Regions from separate parts of the Homo sapiens genome. Here region 2 is linked to region 1. Evidence: fine-mapped expression QTL. Tissue or cell type: tibial nerve. Region 1 holds a variant in brackets; the other region holds the start of a gene. All regions are shown on one strand. Distances are from middle to middle. Region 1 has its middle 72 kb from the start of CRISPLD1. Region 2 holds the start of CRISPLD1 (cysteine rich secretory protein LCCL domain containing 1).

The links. PIP is the estimated chance that this variant, and not a neighbour inherited with it, causes the effect.
Region 2: CRISPLD1 starts here. The variant in region 1 is the best candidate, but not a certain one, in a credible set for the expression of CRISPLD1 in tibial nerve (GTEx, PIP 0.56).

What each region holds. Positions count from the first base shown.
Region 1 is chr8:75,053,890-75,059,274 of GRCh38, forward strand. No RefSeq gene overlaps it. Among named protein-coding and RNA genes, the nearest start is that of CRISPLD1, 72 kb to the left of the region's middle. The variant TAGA/T (reference allele first, on the strand shown) is at 2,295.
Region 2 is chr8:74,981,884-74,987,268 of GRCh38, forward strand. CRISPLD1 (cysteine rich secretory protein LCCL domain containing 1) reads left to right here and starts at 2,622. Exons shown (of 15, transcript NM_031461.6): 1 at 2,622-3,037; 2 at 4,043-4,362. The coding sequence starts at 4,105.

The DNA of each region.
Region 1 (5,385 bases):
TAGTTGACTGATTGCTCTGGCACTGTGGAAATAATGTTTAATAGAGGGAAAAATTATGATAGTATTACCCAGAACAGATGTGCTAGAAATCATCTCATAACTTTGATATGGCTTTAATTGACAATACAAAACTAAAATCTTCAGATACTTTGAGAACTATAGCTGGACAACCTCTGTATATGTTGTGTGTGAGTTTCAATAAGTGTATAAATTTACATTTCTCATAGATTGAAAGTGTATGAAAAAAATCTTTTAGTGTTCATCTAATCTGCCTTTCATTCCCTTGGTTTGCAGAATCAAAAAAGTTGAAGATGCCCTGTTTTTGCCAAAATTACATAGAGCTGTGACTAATAAAAAATAATTTATTTAGACTTCCAATCATATTTTATATGTCCTTGAGATAAAGCCAAGAATAAGACATAAAACCAAATGTTAGAGTCCTGATACCTCAATGTTTTTAGTACATCTTCACAAACTTCAAAAAGTATCAAAAATCAGTGATTAGAGTATAAGCAGTCTAAATATAATGGTGTGCACCTCATTAATAAGAAATACTTAATCAGATAGCTTAATGTATCAATTTAGAAACATTTGCTTGTTTCATAAGAAGTTATTTTCTAAAAAGTAAAAATTATCTTAACATATACATTGTCACTAAGATACTAAAAAGCTGCCAGAAAACTGTGTCTGTGTGAAATACTCATAAGTCTATCAAATGTGATTATAAGTAATACTAATTATAGCTGTTTTCATATTGTTCTTATTGTGTGCCAGGCACTGTCCTAGGCAGTTCATACACAAATTCACACAATCCACACAACTCAATGAGAAAAGTATTGTTACTGTCATGTTCATTTTATAGATGGTAAGAGGAGTTAAGTAACTTCCTCAAATCCACCCAGAAAATAAATATTGGAGCTAGGATTTGAACTCTAGAAATATGACTGTAGACTCTGTTTTCTTATTTAATCATTTCCTGTCCCACAGACAGCATCTTTTTCATTAGATATATAGACAGCCTAATCTAAGGTGCATCAACTCTCTATGACAATATGCTTTTTAGAATAAGTATAAGGTAGGAGACCAGTACTGGTCCGTGGCTTGTTAGAAACAGGGCTGCACAGCAGGAGGTGAGCAGCGGGCCAGCAAGCATTACCTCCTGAGCTCCACATTTTATGAGATCAGCAGTGGCATTAGTTTTCATAGAAGCATGAACCCTATTGTGAACTGTTCATGTGAGGGATCCAACTGCTCATGTGGCTCCTTGTGAGAATCTAATGCCTGATGATCTGAGGTGAAAATTTCATCCCCCAACCATCTTCCCCTCAACTGTCCCCTGTCCATGGAAAAATTATCTATTTGGACACAAACTGTCATTTTCTTTAGCTGCTCTTAAAATTTTCTCTTTATCTTTAGTTTTTGCCAACCTGACTGATAACTAACTGGTACTTAAAATATTAAATTAACTTGTAGATTTCTCTATATTGTTTATTTTATCTCTTGATTTTTTTTCACATTTTTTTCTTTTCTTTTTTATGCCTTATATGTTTGGATTGGAGGAAAAATCACAGAGATTTTAAATGATGTCATCTTCCTCTGGGTGGGCTAAATTTTCTTGTGGAAAAGAGATTGAGCACCAATATATGACTTTGGTGCTATTAAGGCTTTCAGGCTTTGTTAGGGCTATATATTTTACTTTTGTTCTTATTCCCAGGGTTTAGCCTTATTATTAGAGCATAGCCTTTGTGGGCCTGAAAGCCTTAGGTACTTAGCAAAGGCACCCATGTGGCTGGGGCTGAACTCCAGCTTCTCTTCCAACAACCATGTGGCTACTGCCATCTCTGCTTTGGCATTTTAATTTTTTCACATGCTATTTCTTACTAAGTGGTTTGTATTTGGTTGTTTTCTTTTCTGTTCTTTCTTTCTTTTTCTTTCTTTCTTTCTTTCTTTGGTATGCATTTACAATCACACATACGCATATCTTTGCATGTGTTTGTGAAGGTGTGCAAACACACGTATGAACTCTTAACTATTATGCTACACTATCTAGTTAAAAAATAAATACTTGCATATTAATTTCAAGCACTTTTCCCAGTCATTTTTCTTCTCACTTTTAATTTTGTATCTGTATGTTGTTAACTAGCAAATATTTTAAAAGGTAATTTCTGAATTTTGTCTTATTTACGACCATTCTTACTCCAAGCATGCTTTAAAAAATCTTCAATTTTTTAAAAGTACTTTAAAGTTTGTATTGATTATGTTCAAATGTTAACCCAATCTAAAACTTATTTTGG[TAGA/T]AGGACTGAGGGAAGGAGAAATTCAACTATATTTTTCCAAGTGACTGCCCATTTTTCCTAACAGTATTTTTTGAATAATCTAACTTTTCCAAATAAATTTGAAAATGTTGCCACATTTGAGCTAAATTTTCAGAAATATTTGATATAATTATTGGACCTGTTTTCTGATTCACTGATTTGTTACTCATCCAATACTAACATTTTTTATTGATTTGCTTTGTGATATATTTTAGCGCTTGATGCAGCTTATTACTTATGTTTCTAACAAATTTTCTAGCTAGTCACACATGTTTATATTTCCATATAAAGTGTAAAGTTTTTTTTTTGTTAGTTAAATAGTCCAGTTTGAAAAACAGGTGTGATATTAGGTGTTCTATACTTTTGCCTTTGGTTATAACTATAGTTTCTACCTCCATAATTTTTATACTTTTCATTAAATCAGATCAGTGGTATCTTCAGGGCCTATTACAATTACAAAAGCCCATGCAAAGTTCAGCAGCCTCAAAGATAGAAGTTAGACACACTCATGAATATGAGAAAGAATCAATGAAAAAAAAACACTGAAAACTCAAAAACCCAGAGTGTGTCTTCTCCTCCAAATGATCACAAAACCTCTCCAGCAAGGGCACAAAACTGGGCTGAGGCTGAGATGGATGAATTGACAGAAGTAGGCTTCAGAAGGTGGATAATAAAAAACTTTGCTGAGCTAAAGAAGTATGTTCTAACACAATGCAAAGAAGCTAAGAACCATGATAAAACATTACAGGAGCTCTTAACCAGAATAACCAGTTTAGAGAGAAACATAAATGACCTGATGGAGCCAAAAATCACAACACAAGAACTTCACAATGCAACCATAAGTATCAATAACTGAATAGACCAAGCAGAGGAAAGAATTTCAGAGTTTGAAGACTATCTTGCTGAAATCTTGTCTGACAGGCAGACAAGATTAAAGAAAAAAGAATGAAAATGAATGAACAAAACCTCTGAGAACTATGGGATTAAGTAAAAAGACCTAACCTATGACTAATTGGGGTACCTGAAAGAGATGGGGAGAACAAAACCAAGCTGGAAAACATACTTTAATATATAATCCAGGAGAACTTCCTCAACCTAACAAGACAGGCTAACATTCAAGTTCAGGAAACCCAGAGAACCCTAGTAAGATACTCCATGAGACGATAAACCCCAAGACACATAATCATCAAATTCTCCATGGTCAAAATGAAGAAAATAATGTTAAGGGCAGCCAGAAAGGCCAGGTCACCTACAAAGGGAAGCCCATCAGACTAACAGTGGACCTCTCAGCAGAAACCCTACAAGCCAGAAGAGAGTGGGGGCCAATATTCAACATTCTTAAAGAAAAGAATTTCCAACCCAGAATTTTATATCCAGACAAACTAAGGTTCATAAGTGAAGGAGAAGTAAAATCTTTTTCAGACAAGCAAATGCTGAGGGAATTCATCACCACTAGGCCTGCCTTGCAAGAGCTCCTGAAAGAAATATAGAAAAAAAAAATTAACTAGAATATTTGGTGGAGTAAAAAAAAAAAAAAAAAAAAATTACATTTTTCAAGCAATTTTTCAGAAGAACTAGTCAATATATTTGCTTTAAAAATGTAAGTATATGACTTTAATAAAAACTCATGTGTGACTTAAAAAAAAAGGAAAATAATAAATATGAATAAATATGGAAAGGAAAAACCACTACCTCCGCTTAAGTGCAAATACCAATGACATTACGAAGCAACTACATGAACAAATCTGAAAAATAACCAGCTAGCATCATGATGACAGGATCAAATTCACACATAAAAATATTAACCTTAAATGTAAATGGGTTAAATGCCACAGTTAAAAGACATAGAATGTCAAGCTGGATAGAGTCAAGACCCATAGGTGTGCTGTATTCAAGAGACTGATCTCACATGCAAAGACACATACAGACTCAGAATAAAGGGAAGGAGGGAAATTTACCAAGCAAATTGAAACCAGGAAAAAAAAAGGGGTTGCAATCCTAGTTTCTGACAAAACAGACTTTGAACCAGCAAAGATCAAAAAAGACAAAGAAAGGCATTAAATAATGGTATAGGGATCAATTCAACAGGAAGAGCTAACTATCCTAAATATATATTCATTCAATAAGGAGCATCAAGATTCATAAAATAAATTCTTAGAGACCTACAAAGACACTTAGACTCCCACACAATAATAGTGGGAAAATTTAATAGTAGACAGATCATCAGACAGAAAATTAATAAGGACATTCAGGACTTGAATTCAGCTCTGTATCAAGTGGACATAATAGACATCTACAGAAATCGCCACCTAAAAACAACAGAATATACATTCTTCTCAGTGCCACATGGCACTTACTATAAAATCGATCACATAATTGGAAATAAAATACTCCTCAGCAAATGCAAAAGAACCAAAATTATAACAGTCTCTCAGAACACAGCACAATCAAATTAGAACTCAAAATTAAGGAACTCGCTCAAAACCACACAACTACATAGAAAGGAAACAACCTGCTACTGAATGACTCCTGGGTAAATAATGAAATTAAGGTAGAAATCAAGAAGTTCTTTGAAACCAATGAGAACAGAGGCAACATACCAGAATCACTGGGATGCAGCTAAAGCAGTGTTAAGAGAAAAATTGATAGCACCAAATGCCCACATCAAAAAGCTAGAAAGATCTCAAATCAACATCCTAACACCACAACCAAAAGAACTAGAGAACCAAGAGCAAGCAAACCCAAAAGCTAGCAGAAGACAAGAAATAACCAAAATCAGAGAGGAATGGAAGGAAATAGAGATGGTGAAAAAAGACCTCAAAAAAATCAATGAATCTGGGAGCTTGTTTTTTGAAAAAATAAAATAAATAAAATAAAATAAAATAAAATAAAATAAAATAGATAGATGGATAGCTAAACTAATAAAGAAGAAAAGAGAAAAGAATCAAATAAACACAATAAAAAATGATAAAGGGGTTATCACCACTGACCCCACAGAAATACAAACAACCATCAGAGAACACTATACTGTAAACACCTCTATGCAAGAATAAACCAGGGAGAAGTTGAA
Region 2 (5,385 bases), 72 kb before region 1:
GAATAGATTTAAAGATAACTATGCACATAAGCAGACAATAATAGCCACATGGAAAAAATATGATATTGACAGAAAAATGTATCCTCTTTGTAGAAATGTATCTTGTTAGAATGCTTTGTGGTGCACGTAACTGAATACCCTAGTCACTGTGATTTAAACATTCATTATTTATTTTAGCAAGAAAAATGGAAGATAGGTGTTGCAGTGATTGGTCAATGGCAGGGAGAGTCAGGCCCAGTTGGTCTTTTTGTTTGGCCAGGGTAATGGGTTTCTGCCCTCAGGCTTGTCTGTCTTCTTTGCAAAGTAAGAGCTGCATCTTTCAGTTTCACAGACTTACACACTGGTACCTAAGGAGACATTTTCTCTTTTTGCATCTCTTTTTATTACAGAAGAAAACCCTTGCCAACCCTCCTCCTTACCCCCAAGTCTTCCTTTCAACAGCTAGGGCTGCATGACATGCCCATGCTAAATCAGTCACTGGTGGCAGGGATAGATTGTGATGACTGGCTTTGACTAATCAACATTCGCCTCTTGAAGATGCCAGTTTGACAGCATGTGAGAGGGTGGATATCCCCGGTAAATTGGAGGCTATGGGCTTGGAAGGAAGAAAGGGGTGGAAGGCTGGTTGTTGGTTAGGCAACCACCAGTGTTTGCCACAAGAAAGTAGTAATGCTAAAAACAACCAGGGCTTTACAAGTAACAGCCTTAGCCACAAACCAAAGTGCCACTTTTACGTGAATTCTGTGTGAAGAAGACATTTTCTTATGTCTACACACAGATTTCTCAACTACAAATAAAAAACGTGAACAGTATCATCTTTGAGTATTCAAGAATATTGTGTTTGATTTTACTGTTCAAAATGGCATTTCCAACATATATACTCAATCAGGAATGACAAGATGTATTATTGAAATGCTAACATGATGAATGCTTAAATCACCTGCAGTACCCAAATTGGAAGCCAAAAGAAATGCTGAGTCAAAGGATTTTTTTCCTTGTTTAGAGAAAGATTTGGAATTAAAGACCTAAAACAATTTTTATTTTCTTTAATGTGAGCCTTTAGGTGTTGGATTCATACATTGTGTAAGAATGTTTATAACTGAAATATTCAAGAGTTACAAATTCATTTAACTTCACTTCCCTATCATTTTAATTCCCTTCTTCCTAATTTGAATTCTCTTTGCAAATGTTTCAAGTAATATTATTACTTTCATGGCTCTTTATTCAATATTCAGTATACTTTTCAATGCCACATGGACATTGCAGTATAAAAACATAGTCTTCATCTGCTGTAACAAATGATAGTTCTTTTACCATAAACTTTGGAGGTTTTCTATCAGTTTCTAAGAGGGAAAGCCAGTTTTCTCAACCCTGTGCATGGAAATTATGAATAGTTATTTGAAAAATACAAAGTTAAGAACTTTTTTGTACTTAAAACTGCTAAAAAATTGCAAAATTACACTTCTATAAAAGTCTTATGTGCATCAAAACTTTTCACCTTCTGCACCTTTCTAATAAGTGATGCTTCCCTTTTCTTTGTGACAGGAAGCAAGGTCTCACCTCCAGCTGAGGCTTAGAGTTGAGTTTTTAGGTTTGATAGATATGGTGTAGTTGAATGGTGGAAAGAGACAGGCAACAGCTTGGGATGATTTGAGTTACTACCATAATATTGTACTTTATTTGATCATATGCTAGATACTCTAGCATTTAGAAAGAAGGAAAATTGAGACTATGATTCACCACATTAGGGAAGCAAACATAGATGGATTAAATAATTAAAAATAAAAATAAAAAACAGCCCCACACTTGGTAGGGTAAGCTGTTGTGAATTTAAAATTAGTAATTTTCTTACCCCAGATTACAACATGAACAAAGGAACGGCCTCTCCTTTCACTACCTATTCTAGCGCTGGGGTTTCAATTCCTGTCAACAATCCCTGATAAATTAATGGTACCCTTTATATCAACTCCTTAAATGTATACATCATCAGAAAAAAAAGTGCTATGGCCACCTTGAGAAGACAATGCCTCATATTTTATGAATAAAGAGGGGGTCTCAACTGTCAGGCCATTCTGAGTCACATATTGACCCCAAATTCTATTGAACATCTTCCCCATCTGGTCCTCATCAAGGATGCGGACCCCTGGGAAAAATAAAAGGAAAAGTATTTTTCCATTTCGTCCCCTATTTCCCCTTTTGTGCCTCCAAGATTGAAGGTGTTATCCCCATCCCCCACCCACTCCATGCTCTATGGGGCAGCCCCTCGTCTGTAAGGACCCTTAAAGGCATTTCAGCATCTCAGCAGAAAGGAACTGACTGGGAGGAGGATCTTTGAATGCAGGGGAGCTGGGAGGACTGAGGGGGGTTGGGGCCCTCCTTGCACACATCTCCCACCAGGGGCCAGACCTTCCGGGCTTGGGTCTCGGGAGCCCAAAGCACGCCCACAAAGGCCGAGCGCCCTGGCTTCGCTGCGTTCCGGAGAAGCAGGGCGGGCTGCTTCTCCCGGATCTGGCGGGCCTCTGGCCACGGCTGGTTGGAGGTGGGGGTGGGCGAGGAGGGGCGCTCAAGTCACGTGCCCGCGCTGGGGCCGCAATAAATGCTCGCGAACGCGAGAGAGCGACGGAAGCGCTAGGCGCCTGGTTCTGCGCGTACTGGCTGTACGGAGCAGGAGCAAGAGGTCGCCGCCAGCCTCCGCCGCCGAGCCTCGTTCGTGTCCCCGCCCCTCGCTCCTGCAGCTACTGCTCAGAAACGCTGGGGCGCCCACCCTGGCAGACTAACGAAGCAGCTCCCTTCCCACCCCAACTGCAGGTCTAATTTTGGACGCTTTGCCTGCCATTTCTTCCAGGTTGAGGGAGCCGCAGAGGCGGAGGCTCGCGTATTCCTGCAGTCAGCACCCACGTCGCCCCCGGACGCTCGGTGCTCAGGCCCTTCGCGAGCGGGGCTCTCCGTCTGCGGTCCCTTGTGAAGGCTCTGGGCGGCTGCAGAGGCCGGCCGTCCGGTTTGGCTCACCTCTCCCAGGAAACTTCACACTGGAGAGGTAAGGGCGATTCTAAAATGCATCGCTGAGTCGTCAAGCTGCCACCCTTTCCTATCTCCCTTTGCCTTCTTAAACTGTACTTAAAAAAAAAAAAAAGCCAACTGTACAGAGTGGTTGGGCGCGATGGGTGGGTGGGCTACCCGGAAAGCAGCGACGATAGAAATTAGCGGGAGCTCTAGTTCTTGTAAGTGACTTTGTTGGTTTCACCTACTTTCTCTGTCGCGCGCTTTCCATTTGAGTTCAGAGAAAGAACAGTGTGTGCCTTCACACTTGAGAGGAAAAGCTCTCAAGTTGCCGGGGAGCTGCTGGCTTCTTCGGGTGCAGGCCACAGATTAGTCACAGACTTTCCAGGAAATAAAGATTGAGTTCTTGACCTGAGCCTGAATAGGAAGAGACTTACCCCAGGAACCCAAACCATTCATTTGCAGTAGTTCACGGGGCCCCCTAGATGTAGCCATGGATGCATATATGAATAGCCTTTTGTATTTCTTTGAAACATTCACTCTCAATTTTAGAATGCTGTGGACATTCTGAGTGTGAAACAGAGATGGGCCACTGGAATAAAATAATACCAAATAAAATATTCACACCTTAAAACTCTTCATAGAGAAACATGAACCTCTAGATTGAAATCAAACGTTCTAGGTAGATATAACATCCTTTGCAGGGTATATGTAATGTATAGCCACTTAAAGTCTTGCAATTCACATAGTATTTTCAAGCTTTGACTCTTCTAGGCTACTTTTGCCATTTACTTTTGGCCTCAGGGGTATTATCTTGGATAATACAGTTGTCTAGTTTGTGGAAATTGCATTGTGAAAAGTCCTCTGGAAGAAAAAAAATGGGTTGGAGATAAGTTATTTCAAAATGTGAGTGTCCATTTTCTGCTGTTAAATAGACAAATCAAACTGGCACACTTCCTTTGTAACTGTTGTTTTGCTCGTGTTATTAGAAAATTCATATCTGCTGGAATTTTCATCTTAATCACATGACATGTCGTTATAGCCAAAAGGAGTGGAAGAGCCTGTCTTGGAGATTTTCCTGGGGAAATCCTGAGGTCATTCATTATGAAGTGTACCGCGCGGGAGTGGCTCAGAGTAACCACAGTGCTGTTCATGGCTAGAGCAATTCCAGCCATGGTGGTTCCCAATGCCACTTTATTGGAGAAACTTTTGGAAAAATACATGGATGAGGATGGTGAGTGGTGGATAGCCAAACAACGAGGGAAAAGGGCCATCACAGACAATGACATGCAGAGTATTTTGGACCTTCATAATAAATTACGAAGTCAGGTGTATCCAACAGCCTCTAATATGGAGTATATGGTAAGGACATTTTTCAAGTGGTATGTACAAAAGAAATGTTTATTCATGCTTTCAGTCAGCAGTCTTCATGCTGTTCTTTAATCATTTATTTTATATGAAGTTGAAAAAAGATTTTCTTTGAGGGTATTTTCCTCTGCATATTCGTTTATTAATGTTCCTTTTGTTTCTAAGAGCTCTTGACATTCAGAGTAGGACGAAATGCCTTTAGATGCAATGTTCCTACTAAGTGCTGTAAATTCTACTCTCACCAGGAAGGTTAATATAGTGAAAATGCAAAACAGCTGGTATATTTGCTGTTAATTGACTTAGCTGAAAATTTACTTCCTAATTCCTGATAGAACCTTTTTATGAATGGTGGATCTGAAAAATTCAGACTAATAATCGGAAGAAACTTTCTGGATTGCTGAAATATATTGTTCCTAATGGGTCTTTGTTTCTTATAAACATGTAAATGACATTGTAAAGGATACATTTTTATGGTTGCTTTATGTTGAAGAGTGCTTTGGCAATGGCTTTTTTCTCCCCTTGGATTTATTATTTGTGAACTTGAAGCATGAAAATAAGCCTTGGCAAAGGATTAATTTAAAATATTCAGCTTATCCTTAACAACCTTATATTTACTCTGAGTAAATTTGCAACTTTAAGGGACATAATTACTTTAAGACTACTAGCATATAACTCATGAGTATACTGCCATTTCATACCCTAAACATTTAGAAAACTTTTCAAAAATCTATTATATTCCTTCCATGAATGAGGAATGCACTAGCAAAGCCTGATAATAAATAGTTATTGGTGATGGCAAAACTTATTTAACAAACATTGGAAATGGCATTTTCATTGCAGTTAATTTTCATACATTCTAGTTTTTTTCTGTATTTACCTTAGTTTTGGTGGATATTCTTTATTTAGATAATTTTCATGAAGCATGGAAGTTCTAAGTTCCTATTGCCCGTTATAAAGTATGGCATTACACTATTTTAACTTTTACCAGAAAAAATTATTTTACCCTAAAGAAAGTAG